2 separate regions of the Homo sapiens genome follow, and region 1 is linked to region 2. The links come from fine-mapping of genetic effects on gene expression. Tissue or cell type: whole blood. Region 2 holds a variant in brackets; the other region holds the start of a gene. All regions are shown on one strand. Distances are between the middles of the regions.

Evidence for each region. PIP is the estimated chance that this variant, and not a neighbour inherited with it, causes the effect.
Region 1: it holds the start of SGK1, and the variant in region 2 is fine-mapped to the expression of SGK1 in whole blood (INTERVAL, PIP 0.97).

Annotation. Positions count from the first base shown.
Region 1 is chr6:134,313,847-134,321,016 of GRCh38, reverse strand. It overlaps SGK1 (serum/glucocorticoid regulated kinase 1), which reads left to right and starts at 2,905. Exons shown (of 14, transcript NM_001143676.3): 1 at 2,905-3,625. The coding sequence starts at 3,557. RefSeq lists an enhancer at 3,078-3,357.
Region 2 is chr6:134,214,106-134,221,275 of GRCh38, reverse strand. All of the region lies in intron 2 of SGK1 (serum/glucocorticoid regulated kinase 1), which reads left to right. Among named protein-coding and RNA genes, the nearest start is that of SGK1, 100 kb to the left of the region's middle. The variant C/T (reference allele first, on the strand shown) is at 4,300.

The DNA.
Region 1 (7,170 bases), 100 kb before region 2:
CACTCTGGGCTTACCTGAGGGCAGCTTTACTTATGAAAATAGAGGTCAGAGTGAGATGAAAGATGCCTTCTTTTCCTGAATAACCAACACAGTGCAGTTAATGCATTTCTCTATTATTGCACCAATCAAAAGATAATCCAAAATAATTGGCTGTCAGATATAGTCAGAATCCCTGCCCTATACTTCTCTTCCTTCATCTGACTGACCTACTCATTCTTTAAGGCCATGCACTAACATCATCCCTTTAGGTAAATTTCCTGGACCTCTCTTACCCATCCAGCCCCACCCTTCCCCCCTCCAAATTAAGGCAGGGTTGATGCATACACACCACACACACACACACACACACACACACACACACACACACAGAGTAGTACACTCTTATCCATGGGGGATACATTCCAAGACCCCCCCCATGGATGCGTGAAACTTCAGATAGTACCAAACTCCATATACATTATGTTTTTTCCTGTACATACATACCTATAATAAAGTTTAATTTATAAATCAAGCACAGTAAGAGATTAACAACAATAGTAGAATAATTTTAACAATGTACGATAATAAAAATGATGTGACTGTGGTCTCTCTCTGTGTCTCTAAAAGTATCGTATTGTACTCACTGATTTTCAGACCATTGTTGACCTTAGGTAACTGAAACTGTGGAAGGTAAAACCTCAGATAAGGGAGGACTACTGTATATAGTATTCTTACCACACTGTATATTTCTCTACTAGGCTGTGAGTTCCTTGGTGACAAAAACCAGTGACACTTACATGCACTGGACCTTCCATAGGATCTAGCATAGACCAAGTGACAGTGGCAGCATCTTCAAGAGGTGGCATGGAGTGAGGGAAAAGATAGCATTTAGCTTGTCTTCTCCTCCCTCATAATCTCTATTAACCACCCGCCTGCACCCCAAATGAACATACATCCTACATGAAACCAGGGTATTAGTCCGTTCTCACACTGCTAATAAAGACATAGTGAGATGGGTAATTTATACAGGAAAGAGGTTTAATTGACTCACAGTTCAGCATGGCTGGGGAGGCCTCAGGAAACTTACAATCAGAGCAGAAGGGGAAGCAAACACATTCTTCTTCACATGGCATCAGGAAGGGGAAGTGCTGAGCAAAAGGGAGAAAAGCCCCTTATAAAACCATCAGATCTCATGAGAAATCACTCACTGTGGGAACTACAATTCAAGACGAGATTTGGGTGGGGACACAGCCAAATGATATCAACCAGTATGCATGCTAGGCCAATGTGGGATTAAGCAAAGCCCCAGCACCTCCTTCCTAGCAGAGTGCTTAAAGGTCCCCTCCTGTATATTACTCAAATTCAATAAATGTCTGTTAAAACACTTTTGGGGGAGTGGCAATGGGACGAAAAAGAAAGAACTTGAATGACCATCATTTTTTAAAATGAGGTCCATTGAGGTATAATTTACATGCAGCAAAAGTTTCCCTTTTCCTATATAAAATTTGATGAGTTCTGACAAATGCATAGTTATGTAACCACCACCATCATCATGATAGAGAACACTTCCATCGTCTCAAAATAATTCCCTTTGAACTACCATAATTTTAAATGAACTCTTTAGAAGAACCACAAAAACTTATCAATGTTGTAGATTACATAACATATACTTGCATCTTGGACAACTTAACATATCTCTCCAAAATGAATAGTTGTTTTCCCTTGGTTATCATGCCATCATTTAGTTGTATTGCATTTTCTTTTTGGAAACCTCAAGGCATTTAGCAAACAGGATTTCATGTTTATTCCCAAAAACTCTGGCCCAACTGTAGAGATTTATAGTCCAATTCAATGAAACCCATGCATTTCTTTCCCAGTTTAACCTGATGTTTCTCTTCTTACCAGAGACTTCCATGTAAATACTTTAACAATGTTAGGTGTGTTATATATAATGAGGTCATAATCAGTTTCAAATTAGCATTGCGCCTTTCACTTATTTATCAATTATATTCCCTTGTGATGATTATGAAAAGGCTCCACATCCTGAGGACACTTGTCAGAGTTAGATTTATTAATGGAATGAAATAGCAAATAATGAATGACTAAATAAATGAATGAGTGAATGAATGAATGAGTGGCTGCCTCCATTTTATGGATGAGGCAGTGTCCGAAAGGCACAGTGAGGTCAGGTGATGGCAGAAAGCCACACACCGATGTTGGTGGCTTTCTGCCAGGTCAGATGCCAAGTTTATTTTCTTTGCTTTCTTGCTTTACTATCAACTAATCTTTAAAATCATTCCCATAAAATATCAACATTAAAGAATAAAAATGGAAAAATAAGCCACATACAATTAAATGGCTTTTTTAAAAGGAGCTCAGTGTGCAAAGGATAACATGAGTAAGGATTTTTTGGGAAATTTTTCACCTAATAGGAAGAATGCTTTACTCTTTTATTTATCAAACCTTCCTCATCATTAAATGGATTCAGTAGTACTTTTTGGTAATAACTCGTGTGTGTGTGTATGTGTGTAATAAAGTACTTTGTATATGTTCATTGTGTTCTTTTTTTAATAAGCTGTTTTAATGAAAAAGACACAATTACCGTCACCATTGCCCACTATATAATGACAAGTAGGGGAGGGGAGGCTAAAAGAGCTTCTACATAGTGAGAGATCTTCCATTGTTATACCTACGCTTGCACTTTATTTCATTTTCTTCCACGTTTGGACAGGTCGAGATTAAATGTGATTACATTTCCGTTGAGAGGCTTTTATTCAGCAACAGGATTCAAAAGAATGTCAATGAGCATAAAATAAAAACGGTGTGCAATTTATATGAAACTCTGATTTAAATGGTCCTAACCAAAAAAAAAAAAAAAGAAAGAAAGAAAAGAAGCTATTTAAAGTAACCCTCCCAAGGGGAGTCAACTGCTCTTCAGTGTGCCCTGAGCCGGCTGTGCCTTCTCTCCATCCGCTGCTCAGATATTCATGAACCGTTGCTTCTTCCAGCCTCGCCTTCTCGCTCCCTCTGCCTTTCTGGCGCTGTTCTCCCTCCCTCCCTCTGGCTTCTGCTCTTTCTTACTCCTTCTCTCAGCTGCTTAACTACAGCTCCCACTGGAACTTGCACAATCAAAAACAACTCTCCTCTCTCAAGCCGCCTCCAGGAGCGCATCACCTGGAGAAGAGCGACTCGCTCCCCGCGCCGGCCGCGGAAGAGCAGCCAGGTAGCTGGGGGCGGGGAGGCGTACCCTTCTCCCGCTCGGTAAGAGCCACAGCATCTCCCCGGAGATTGGCCGTATCCCACCGTCCGGCCCCCAGGGTCCTGCAGCGGTGATGCATATGTTTCGGAGCAATGATGGAAGGAGAAAAGCCGCTGTCGGTGGCAACTGAAAGTGGGGAGAGGTTGCTGCAGTAGCTGGTGCTGCAGAATGCGCGAGTGAAGAACTGAGCCCCGCTAGATTCTCCATCCCGCTCAGTCTTCATTAACTGTCTGCAGGAGGTAAACCGGGGAAACAGATATGCACTAACCAGGCGGGTGCCAACCTGGATCTATAACTGTGAATTCCCCACGGTGGAAAATGGTAAACAAAGACATGAATGGATTCCCAGTCAAGAAATGCTCAGCCTTCCAATTTTTTAAGAAGCGGGTAAGGACAGGTTTTGCTTATTTCTTTTGTTTTCTGTGCTTCTCTTAAATGCTTTTGAATGTTTGCCTGAAGTAAGCCTGAGGTTTTGTTGCTAAACCCTTAATGTAAGCCGTGCTTCTGATGGCAGTGGTAAAGCTGAGAACTATACCTGACTTGATTAGAATTTGTTGGAGGAGGGGCAGGGGGCTATGAAGAGTTGCATTGGGAGGAGGGGGTTGGGCTGAGATGCCTTAAACGGGTTTGAGCTGGGAATGGGGATTTTTCTCTCTCAAGCCACAACAAAGATTACAAGGCAGTCGCAAAGAGAACTGGCTTGAGTACAATTATGGCTAGTAATTTAGTCAGGGGCTAATTTAGCAGCTTCCTCTCATCTTTGAAGGGTTCAACTTTTCTACACCTTTCATCCACTCAGTCTCAAGTGATGCATTATCATCTTCGTTCGTCAGAAGCAGCAGCTTCTGGTTTCCCAAATCCATTCAGCCAATAATTTGCTGTGTCTCTATCTGTGGTATAAATAGCAAAGGAGTAGAATGACCTTTTACAGAAATGATGGAATCCAGCATTTAAAATTGTCTATTTTAAGTTGCCTCAATTTTTGCTTTTGCTTAGAATAACTGCCTTTTTTTTTTTTTTTTTTTTTTTTTTTTTGGGAGAGAGCAGTGGGAGGTCTGTATTTGAGTGATAATTCAGGGTTATGTTGCTGTATGCATTTATTTCTTAAACTCCTTATTCTTCAACTCAAAGTATGAATAATGTTGCATTGGTTGTAGGTGAGAAAAAAGGATTTTTTTGCATGTATATTTCACAATAAACTCAGTTCACTGGGATGGCCACACTGGTGGTCTGTGTAAATCTGCAAATTTATACACAAGCGGGAGGTAAGAAATGAATGATTGTTAAAGGAATGACACTGACACTCTTAAGGACAGTGTTTCCTAAGCAACGTAAGAGAAGGAACATCCTCCAGTCCCCAGTTGCCCCATCCTATTTAATACCCTAGGGCAATTCCACCAAAATGGTTCTCTCCATTCATTCCTCCTTCCTTTCATTCAGGTCCTTTCTGTGCCACTCCTGAAACACAGCCCTTCAGTTAACTCATCCGCAGAACACAGTGAATTTCAGGGTGGGCTGGACTATCTCCCTGCACCAAATGGGCAAGCTGGGAAGGCAAGGCTAGAAATGCAGGCAACATGTCAGGCCCAGCTAGAGGGCCAGCGAAGGCTCCCAAGCACCCTTGACTGAGTTCTCATCAGTAAAGCAAAATCTTTCTCCAAGTCTGTGGGCCAAAGCATATGCATTCAAACCAAAATGAAACCAACCTGTCCTGGCCCCTGCTCTTGGAGTGGGAGTACCATGTGAAATCTCACTAGTGAGCTGCAAGCTAAGTGAAAGCAAGTCAGTGCAACTTCACAGAGCTCCACAAGGCTTCTTAGTTTTTCTCTGTAGCTAAAATATTTCTTTCCAAGGGAAGAGCCCTTTATGAAAATTAATTTTCTTTCTTTCTTTTTCTTTTTTTTAGAGACGGGGTCTTGCTATATTGCCCAGGGTGGTCTTGACCTTTTGGGCTCAAGTGGTCCTCCTGCCTCAGCCTCCCAAATTGCTGGGATTACAGATGTCCACCACCAGGCCCAGCCCTAATTTTCAATAATAAACAAATGTTTTGCTAATTTTAAAAATGCCATAGCCCATTATCCAGTATTTAAACTCTATTGCCTTTTAATTACTGTATTTATTTCATGGTATTGGGGATATTCTAAAACTCCTCAGTCAGATGTTCTTAAGCAATGTAGATTTAAGTTACATAAATTTTAAATTGTCTTTTATTTTCTTTGTTATCAAAATGTACTAATAGAAATACTAATTTGCCATTTGGTTTTGTTTTGCTTAAAAGCAAGTTTACCAATAGACTTCAGTTGGTGACTCTGCAGACCTTGAATTTTGCAGAGAACCACCCAGGGTACTGATGTCTTATCTGAGTACATGCAGAAAGAAGTTTCTACCAAGATAACTGGCAGGCAGCTTCATCTAACTTCTAACCTGGGTCTATCAGTTGCTGGAGACAGGATCAGACATCTCTCCTGCCCCTGCGCTCTCCTTACTCCTCAAGGACAGTTAACTAAGTAGAAGGTGACCTTGTATCAAGTCATTGAATGCCCCAGGGATAAATTCTTTGATTTTTGTCTACTTTGGTTTATTCCACAAATTCTGTATTCTAAATGTTTATTTCTGCTTGTACATGACTTTGCTTTTTTTGTTTGTTTGTTTTTAGTTAAACAATATGTAAATACATCTATAAAACATTAAAACAATAATAAGGTATATCCCACCTCCTCTCCAATCTTTCTCCCTTTCCCAGATGTAGTAACTGTTACCATACTGATGTTTATACTTTCCAAACTTTTACTTCACATACACATTCATATACTACAATGCCTTTGTTTGCAGTTCAGAATAATTCATTTTCTTATATTCTATTGTTGAAGTTCCACACATTTCTGCATATTTTATTTTTAACCTAGCTAGACAGTCTTACAAAGTGAACCTTTGTCCATAGCCCACATTAAACTATGAATAGATTTTGGAAAAAAAAAAAAAAAAACCATAGGGTCTATTAGGGCTAATTAAAAAGAATGATTTTTGATTGCAGGAGGCTTAAACAGTGCTTCCTATGCTTCTGAGACATTCCAGAGGGAGCATAAGAAACTGAAGGAGAATATAGGTTATCTGCCCTTGTAGCTGTCTGTCAGTCACTATTTATTAGAGCTGACTATGTTCTGGGTAGGAATGCTTTACATGTATTAGCTCATTTAATATTCACAGTAACCCTATAAGGTAAGAAACATTATTAAATGTGCAAAGTGTGACTTAGAGAGATTAAACCATTCGCCCAAGGTCACATAACTAAAAAGTAGCAGAGCTAAAATTTAAACCTTGTTCAACTCAAAGCTTGTATACGTAATCCAGACTTTTTGATTTCAGACCACTCTCCCCTTCTTTTCTTTTAGTTTCCACAACAGACTCTTCTGTCCCCCTACCCCCCTCCCCCAACCAAGTGAAATCTTTATGCCACTACCAAAAACCTATAAAAGCGGCCAAGCCTCTTCCAGCTCCTTTCTAGTCCTTAATACTGACAGTAATGAGAGGCTGCCCTGGGGAACCCAGATTCTAGGAACATAATCTGAAGAAAGACAGTCCGGATGCTAGTTCTACAAAATCCTTTGGATTTATGCTTCTCATCCTCATATTTTAAAAGCTCAACTAAAGCAGCTTAATTTCATTTAGCAGAGAATTGCTGAACTAAACTGGATAAGAGTTCTACTTTCATTCTTTAAGTGTTCATGATAAATTAGCATTAGATGTATATGGATTATATTTTACTCTTAAGAGTCTCCAAAAATTCATTTAAGATGAATGGAAAAATGTCCTTATCAGTTTTATTCTCCCAATCCAAGAGTTTTAAAAGTTGTCAGTCCAGCTAAAGGTAATCCATTTTCATGGATTTAAAGATTTGTTCTGTTTGTGGCTCAGATTCTTACATAATGATT
Region 2 (7,170 bases):
CTGGAGATCAGTGGCACAGTCTTGGCTCACTGCAACCTCCACCTCCCAGGTTCAAGCAGTTCTCCCATCTCAGCCTCCCAAGTAGCTGGGATTACAGGAGCCCACTACCACGCCCAGCTAATATTTGTGTTTTTAGTAAAGACAGGGTTTCACCATGTTGGCCAGGCTGGTTTCGAACTCTTGACCTCAGATGATCTGCCTGCCTCGGCCTCCCAAAGTGCTGGGATTACAGGCATGAGCCACTGCGCCTGGCCTGAGCAAACTTTTTTTAATAAAATTTTTTTTTTTTTTTTTGAGCCGGAGTCTCACTCTGTTGATCAGGCTGGAGTGCTGTGGCATGATCTTGGCTCACTGCAACCTCTGCCTCCCGGGTTCAAGTGATTCTCCTGCCTCAGCCTCCAGAGTAGCCGAAACTACAGGCGTGGGCCACCATGCCTGACTAATTTTTGTATTTTTAGTAGAGATGGCGTTTTGCCATGTTGGCCAGGCTTCTATCAAAAAATTATATCTCTCCCGAGAGGAGTATATGACTCCATCTAAGTCATTATACTCCTGTTGACATGTTGATGGTACAAAATGGATAATAATAACCTTTACCAATTATTAAAACTTAGAGGCCCTAACCCTAACCCTAAACTGAACTCTAACTTTGCCAATTTTTCCAATAAGGAGACTACAGCTAAAAGATATTAACTAATATCCCAGGGGCACATACATAGTCAAGTAAATTTTAAGTTTTACTTAAATTTTCTCTAGGTCTGTCTGACACCAGAGCTCATGCTCTAAACTGCTATATCTAACTATTTCTACCAACTCCGCTCTAAAATAAATGCAAGGAGGCCTCTCTTAACCACAGTAGATGTACTGTAAATAACATATATAACTTCTATCTGTGTAGCCTTCTGTAAGCCACTTGGCCTCCCTCAGAGTCTGTTTTCCCATCTATTAAATAAGGGAGCTGAACTAAGTCATCTGTTAAATATCTTCTAGCCACAAAATACTATGATTCTGTGATAGATTAACTTTGGCTACTTTAACATAATTTGACTCCTACAAATCAATGATGTGGTCAATAAACATGCATTGATTACCTTTTCTCTGGATCAGGCAAAATCTACAAAACACCATGCCACAAATAATTTTTACTTAATAATTTAATTATATGTGTTTTTCTTTTCTTTTCTTTTCTTTTTTTTTTTTTTTTTTTTTTTTTTTTTGAGACGGAGTCTCGCTCTGTCGCCCAGGCTGGACTGCAGTGGCGGGATCTCGGCTCACTGCAAGCTCCGCCTCCCGGGTTAACGCCATTCTCCTGCCTCAGCCTCCCAAGTAGCTGGGACTACAGGCGCCCGCCCCTACGCCCGGCTAATTTTTTGTATTTTTAGTAGAGACGGGGTTTCACCGTTTTAGCCGGGATGGTCTCGATCTCCTGACCTCGTGATCCGCCCGCCTCGGCCTCCCAAAGTGCTGGGACTACAGGCGTGAGCCACCGCGCCCGGCCTCTTTTTTTTTTTTTTTGAGACAGAGTTTCGATCTTGTTGCCCAGGCTGGAGTGCAATGACGCAATTTCAGCTCACCGCAACCTCTGCCTCCCTCATTCAAGCGATTCTCCTGCCTCTGCCTCCCTAGTAGCTGGGATTACAGGCATGCGCCACTACGCCCGGCTATTTTTATATTTTTAGTAGAGACAGGATTTCTCCATGTTGGTCAGGCTGGTCTCGAACTCCCAACCTCAGGTGATCTGCTCGCCTCAGCCTCCCAAAGTTCTGGGATTACAGGCGTGAGATACCGCGGCTGGCCAATTATATGTTTTGATATAGAATGCAAACAATCTAGATATCTTGGCCTGGCATAGAATCTCAGGTCGAAACTCCAATGCCTGCAGAGCCAGGAGGGAAATTTAAATAGGCGAAGTGGAAACGGGTGTTTGGACATGGCTCTGTGTCAACTCAAAACAGCCATTTTAGGGCCAGGCACGGTGGCTCATGCCTGTAATCTCAGCACTTTGGGAGGCCAAGGCGGGTGGATCACTTGAAGTCAGGTGTTCAAGACCAGCCTGGCCAACATGATGAAACCCCATCTCTACTAAAAATGCAAAACAAAATAAAAAACCAGAACAGAAAAGAAAATTAGCTGGGCATGGTGGCACGCACCTGTAATCTCAGCTACTCAGGAGGCTAAGGCACAAGAATTGCTTGAACCTGGGAGACCGAGGCTGCAGTGAGCTGAGACCATGCCACTGCACTCCAGCCTGGGCGACAGAGCAAGACTCTGTCACAAAAACAAAAACAAAAACAAAAAAACAGCCATTTTAGTACATTGAAAAGCTGTGTTCCATTGTAACCTAAATGTGTTATGTGTTTTAACTGAAAAATGCAGATGTGCCATCATTGATTCTGGTGATATTATTGAAAAAATTAGGTAAGATGGACTCCCTTAAAGAATCTAAAATGACCACTTATCGCCTCACTCCTTACTCATGTGTCCGTACTTATTGCCTCCATAGCACCCACCTCAACTACCAGCATCAGAAAACAAGTTCTGACCGGGTGCAGTGGCTCACACCTGTAAGAGTGGCTCACACTTTGGGAGGCCAAGGTGGGTGGATCATTTCAGGTTGGAAGTTTGAGACCAGCCTGGCCAATATGGTGAAACCCTGTCTCTACTAAAAATACAAAAATTAGCCAGGCGTGGTGGTGGGTGCCTGTAATCCCAGTTCCTTGGGAGGCTGAGGCAGGAGAATCACTTGAACCGGGGAGGTGGAGGTTGCAGTGAGCCAAGATCACCACTGCACTCCAGCCTGGGCAACAGAGCCAGACTCTCTCAAAAAAAAAAAAAAAAGAAAAAAAGAAAGAAAAGAAAACAAGTTCCATGAGGGCAAGATCTGTCTGTCTGTTCACACCTATGCCCATGGCTCCTAGCACTGTGCCTATTGTATAATAAGTTATCCACAAATATTTATTAAATGAATAACTGAATAAATTTCAAGATTGAGGATAAATTTGAGTTTTAAGAAACCCGTATCCGTTCTCAATTGACATCTTAAAATGTAACTCAAGACATGGACTCCAGCCCTTAATTGGTCCCTAACACAAGTTACGTTACCCTCTGGACCTCGATTGTCTCAACCATAATGCAAGGGGGGAATTAATAAAAGACCCCCTTCAGGTCCCCAAATCTCTGATCCTCTGAACTCTACTAGTTGTGTAGAATATAGAAAACATTTGATTTAATAGACATTTGACCTGAATATCTTGACCTTGTGTAGACCAGAGTTTAAATTCAAGTGCTTGCTGAGCCAGGCAGGAAACATAAATAAGTGAAGTGGGTTGGGTGGTGAATTGCCTTAAGCTGTTTGCAATTACAAAGGCCAAACTGAAAAATATCAAAATAAAAAAGAATGCAAATGAAATAAAACCACAAAAGGAGGAACATCTGACTAGTTGTTTGGAATCACAATCTCTTGTGGGGTCAAGTATTGTTCCTAGGCCTCATGTTATATAAATGTGATTAATGTTAAGCAATTGAAGAAGGATAAATCATTAGCTTGCAGAGATCAAGATGATAAGACTCCTGATCTCTGACCCTGCATTAATCTCTTGACCAGACTCCTGCTATCCTGGTCCAAACCATCATCTTTATGAGCGTGGCGGTTGATGTACCAAATTTGCAAACTATGGGCATGTTTGCTGTAGTGAGATAATGTGGCCACATTCCATCTTGACCGGTGTGGTGTGAAGTGGAGGACTGTAGCCCAGGGACAAAGGCATGAGAAACCCATTCGACTGTGTGAGTGAAGCCCACCACCCAGGATCCAAAGGCAGTAGTGGTCCGGTGGGTCAGAGATGGAGCAACTGCTCTCAGGAAGCCCTCAGCCAAGCACAGGAACAAGGGCCCACACGCATTCTGCAGGCCTGCCACACTAGTCTGAGCACAGAATGCTGTGCTTCCTCCTGTTGCTGGAGCTCGTGGACAGCTTTGACCCTCTATGACCATCTGCCTGGTCACCAAATTCCAAAGCCATGAAATGTTTTGGATTCCCCCATCTTCCCTAGTTTTCAGTCATTCTTCAAGTCTTGCAAAGCATTCTTCTAGCTGCCCTCCACACCCATCCCTGCCTTTTCACTTTCAGAGCTCCCATGTGAGTTCGTGCTCTGTCAACTCCCTGTTGTTATAGCAGTCCCCTGATCCCCTCAGCTCCTGTATTCTTCAATTCTGGTCTTTCCTGCAAACTGCCAAGCCTTCTGAATTTCCATGGCATGAAGAACACATTGACATTTAAAGCCTTCCACCATGTGGCTT[C/T]CAATGATTTCGCCCATGAGTCTTGCACTCCCATGGAATTGCTCAACCAAGTGTTGCCCAAATGTGCCTTGTTGAGTTTTGTTCCCACACCTTTGTTTGTGCTGTCCCACCCAGAGAGGACACCCTTCTACCGCCTCCTCACCAATCCAAATGGTGCCAGTGTTTTTAAAAGCCTGTTCAGGTTCTACTTCCTCCCTGAAGCCTTGCTCAACAACTTTGCCCATATTATTGCTTCCTTCTTTAAACTCTGACAAAACATTAGCTCTACCGCATACTTCACATTTAGAGGTACATGATATCGGGTTCCAGATCTGTTTTGTTGATGTCTATGTTCTGCTCCTCAATCCAAATACAATGTCTAGGGAGCAATGAGTTAGCAACTAGGGTAGTAGTTTCTTAAAACAAATGCTCAGTAAATACTGTTGAATGTGATAAGCCCATCTAAGACAGTCAATGGAAGAAGACTCTTTTATCTCATAGATACAAAGAACTGAATTCAAAATTACTATTTGCAAGACGGTATTATATCCTATGATACCAGCCAGGGGCCATTTCCTAAAGCCTCACTAAAGCAATTTGAGAAGCAAGCTTTCACTTCCCTAGAGATAAAGTATTTTTGCTACTTTTGGTCATGCAACTTGAGAGATGAGAAAAACAACTTCCCTGCCTAATAGGAAACAAGCATTTTGAGAATTTCTTTTGTATCTTAGGAAGAACTAATGACTTTAGCACAAACTGCTAAAGTGATCCATGGAAAGCCATATGCAAATTATTATAAACCAAAAAGGAATCAGAGACAAACCCATATTTTATATTTTAGTTCTCTATCTTCATCAGAGGTGATTTTAACATTTCAACCTGAGAAAACTGATTTTTTTATAAAAAGAAAAAAAGTTTTAAAAAATTTATGCATACGTGAATATATTTATTTTGTTGAAGAAATGTTCTTTTTTTGTTTTTAGAGATGGAGTCTTGCTCTGTCACCCAGGCTAGAGTGCAGTGGCGCGATCTCAACTCACTGCAACCTCCGCCTCCTGGGTTCAAGCGATTCTCCTGCCTCATCCTCCCAAGTAGCTGGGATTACAGACATGCACCACCACGCCTGGCTAATTTTGTATTTTTAGTAGAGACGTAGTTTCTCCATGTTGGTCAGGCTGGTCTCGAACTCCCAGCCTCAGGTGATCCACCTGCCTCAGCCTCCCAAAGTGCTGGGATTACAGGCGTGAGCCACCACGCCTGGCCTAATTTTTATATTTTTAGTAGAGACGGGGTTTTGCCATTTTGGCCAGGCTGGTCTGGAACTCCTGACCTCAGGTGATCCGCCCACCTCGGCCTCCCACAGTGCTGGGATTACAGGCATGAGCCACCGCGCGCATGTGCTCACTGCCTGGAGTAATATTCTTTAAATAAGGATGAACTAGAATGGAGACAGAGGACCATAACTGCTTTTTTTCCCTACCAATTCCACCACAATTCAACTTTCCATTAACTGGAAACAATTCATGGAATTCAGACTACATCTTATTTCTGACATCAGTAGAACTATTAATAACTTACTCTCGGCCAGGCGCCGTGGCTCATGCCTGTAATCCCAGCACTTTAGGAGGCTGAGGTGAGCAGATCTCTTGAGGTCAGGTGTTCGAGACCAGCCTGGCCAACATGGTGAAACCCTGTCTCTACTAAACATACAAAAATTAGCCAGGCATGGTGGCAGGCGCCTATAATCCCAGCTACTCAGGAGGCTGAGGCACGAGAATTGCTTGAACCCAGGAGGCGGAGGTTGTAGTCAGCCAGCCACTGTACTCCAGCCTGGGCAACAAAGCTCTCTCAAAAAAAAAAAAAGAAAGAAAGAAAGAAAACTTACTCTCATGTTTATTTTCCAGATTCTCTGCAAAACTTCTGGACAACTGACATCTCCCTAAATGTGATATTCTCATACACCCCCATCTTCTGATGTTTAAATTGTAACCTATGACAATACTTCTAGATGTCAAAACAATAGTGATTAAACATTCAACGGTTACCTTCTAAATATGATCTTTCTTCCACTTACCTAACCCAATACTTTCAAGTCTATCAGACAAGAAAAATCTCTTTCTACCTCCTAGGACTCATAGAAAATAAGTTGAAAAATAGTAAGACTTCTGTTAGAAAAATAATTTTTAAAGATGTCCCCCCACCCAAAACTTCTAGAAGCCATGAGGATTTAAACAAGTGAAGCCAAGGTCCACTGATTTTTAGGGGGCTTACAGTTTGAAATGGTATCTTTTAAATTCAAATTTTATTCAAATTATTCTGTCTGCAGAATACTGCACATATTCTGTTTTTCAGAATGTACATGCTGTCATTTATTAAATAACTAAACTTTAATTACTTTCATTAATTTTTTTTTTTTTTGAGACAGCGTATCCCTCTGTCACCCAGGCTAGAGTACGGTGACTCACTGCAACATCCGCCTCCCAGGTTCAAGGGATTCTCCTGCCTCAGCCTCCTGAGTAGCTGGGATTATAGGCATGCGCCACCACACCCAGCTAATTTTTGTATATTTAGTAGAGACGGGGTTTCACCATGCTGGCTAGGCTGGTCTCGAACGCCTGACCTCAGTTGATCCGCCTGCCTCGGCCTCCCAAATTGCTGAGATTACAGGCGTGAGCCTTAATTTTAATAAACATAATTATTGTTGAAATTGTTAGTTGTGATAATGGCATGGTGGTTAGGCAAAAAAAAGTTGTCAGAAACACATTCTGAAGAAATTATAAACCTTGAGTGGTGGCTAACACCTAATCTTAGCACTTTAGGAGGCCGAGGTGGGAGGATTGCTTGAAGCTGGGAGTTTGAAACCAGCCTGGGAAAACAAGTGAGACCCCGTCT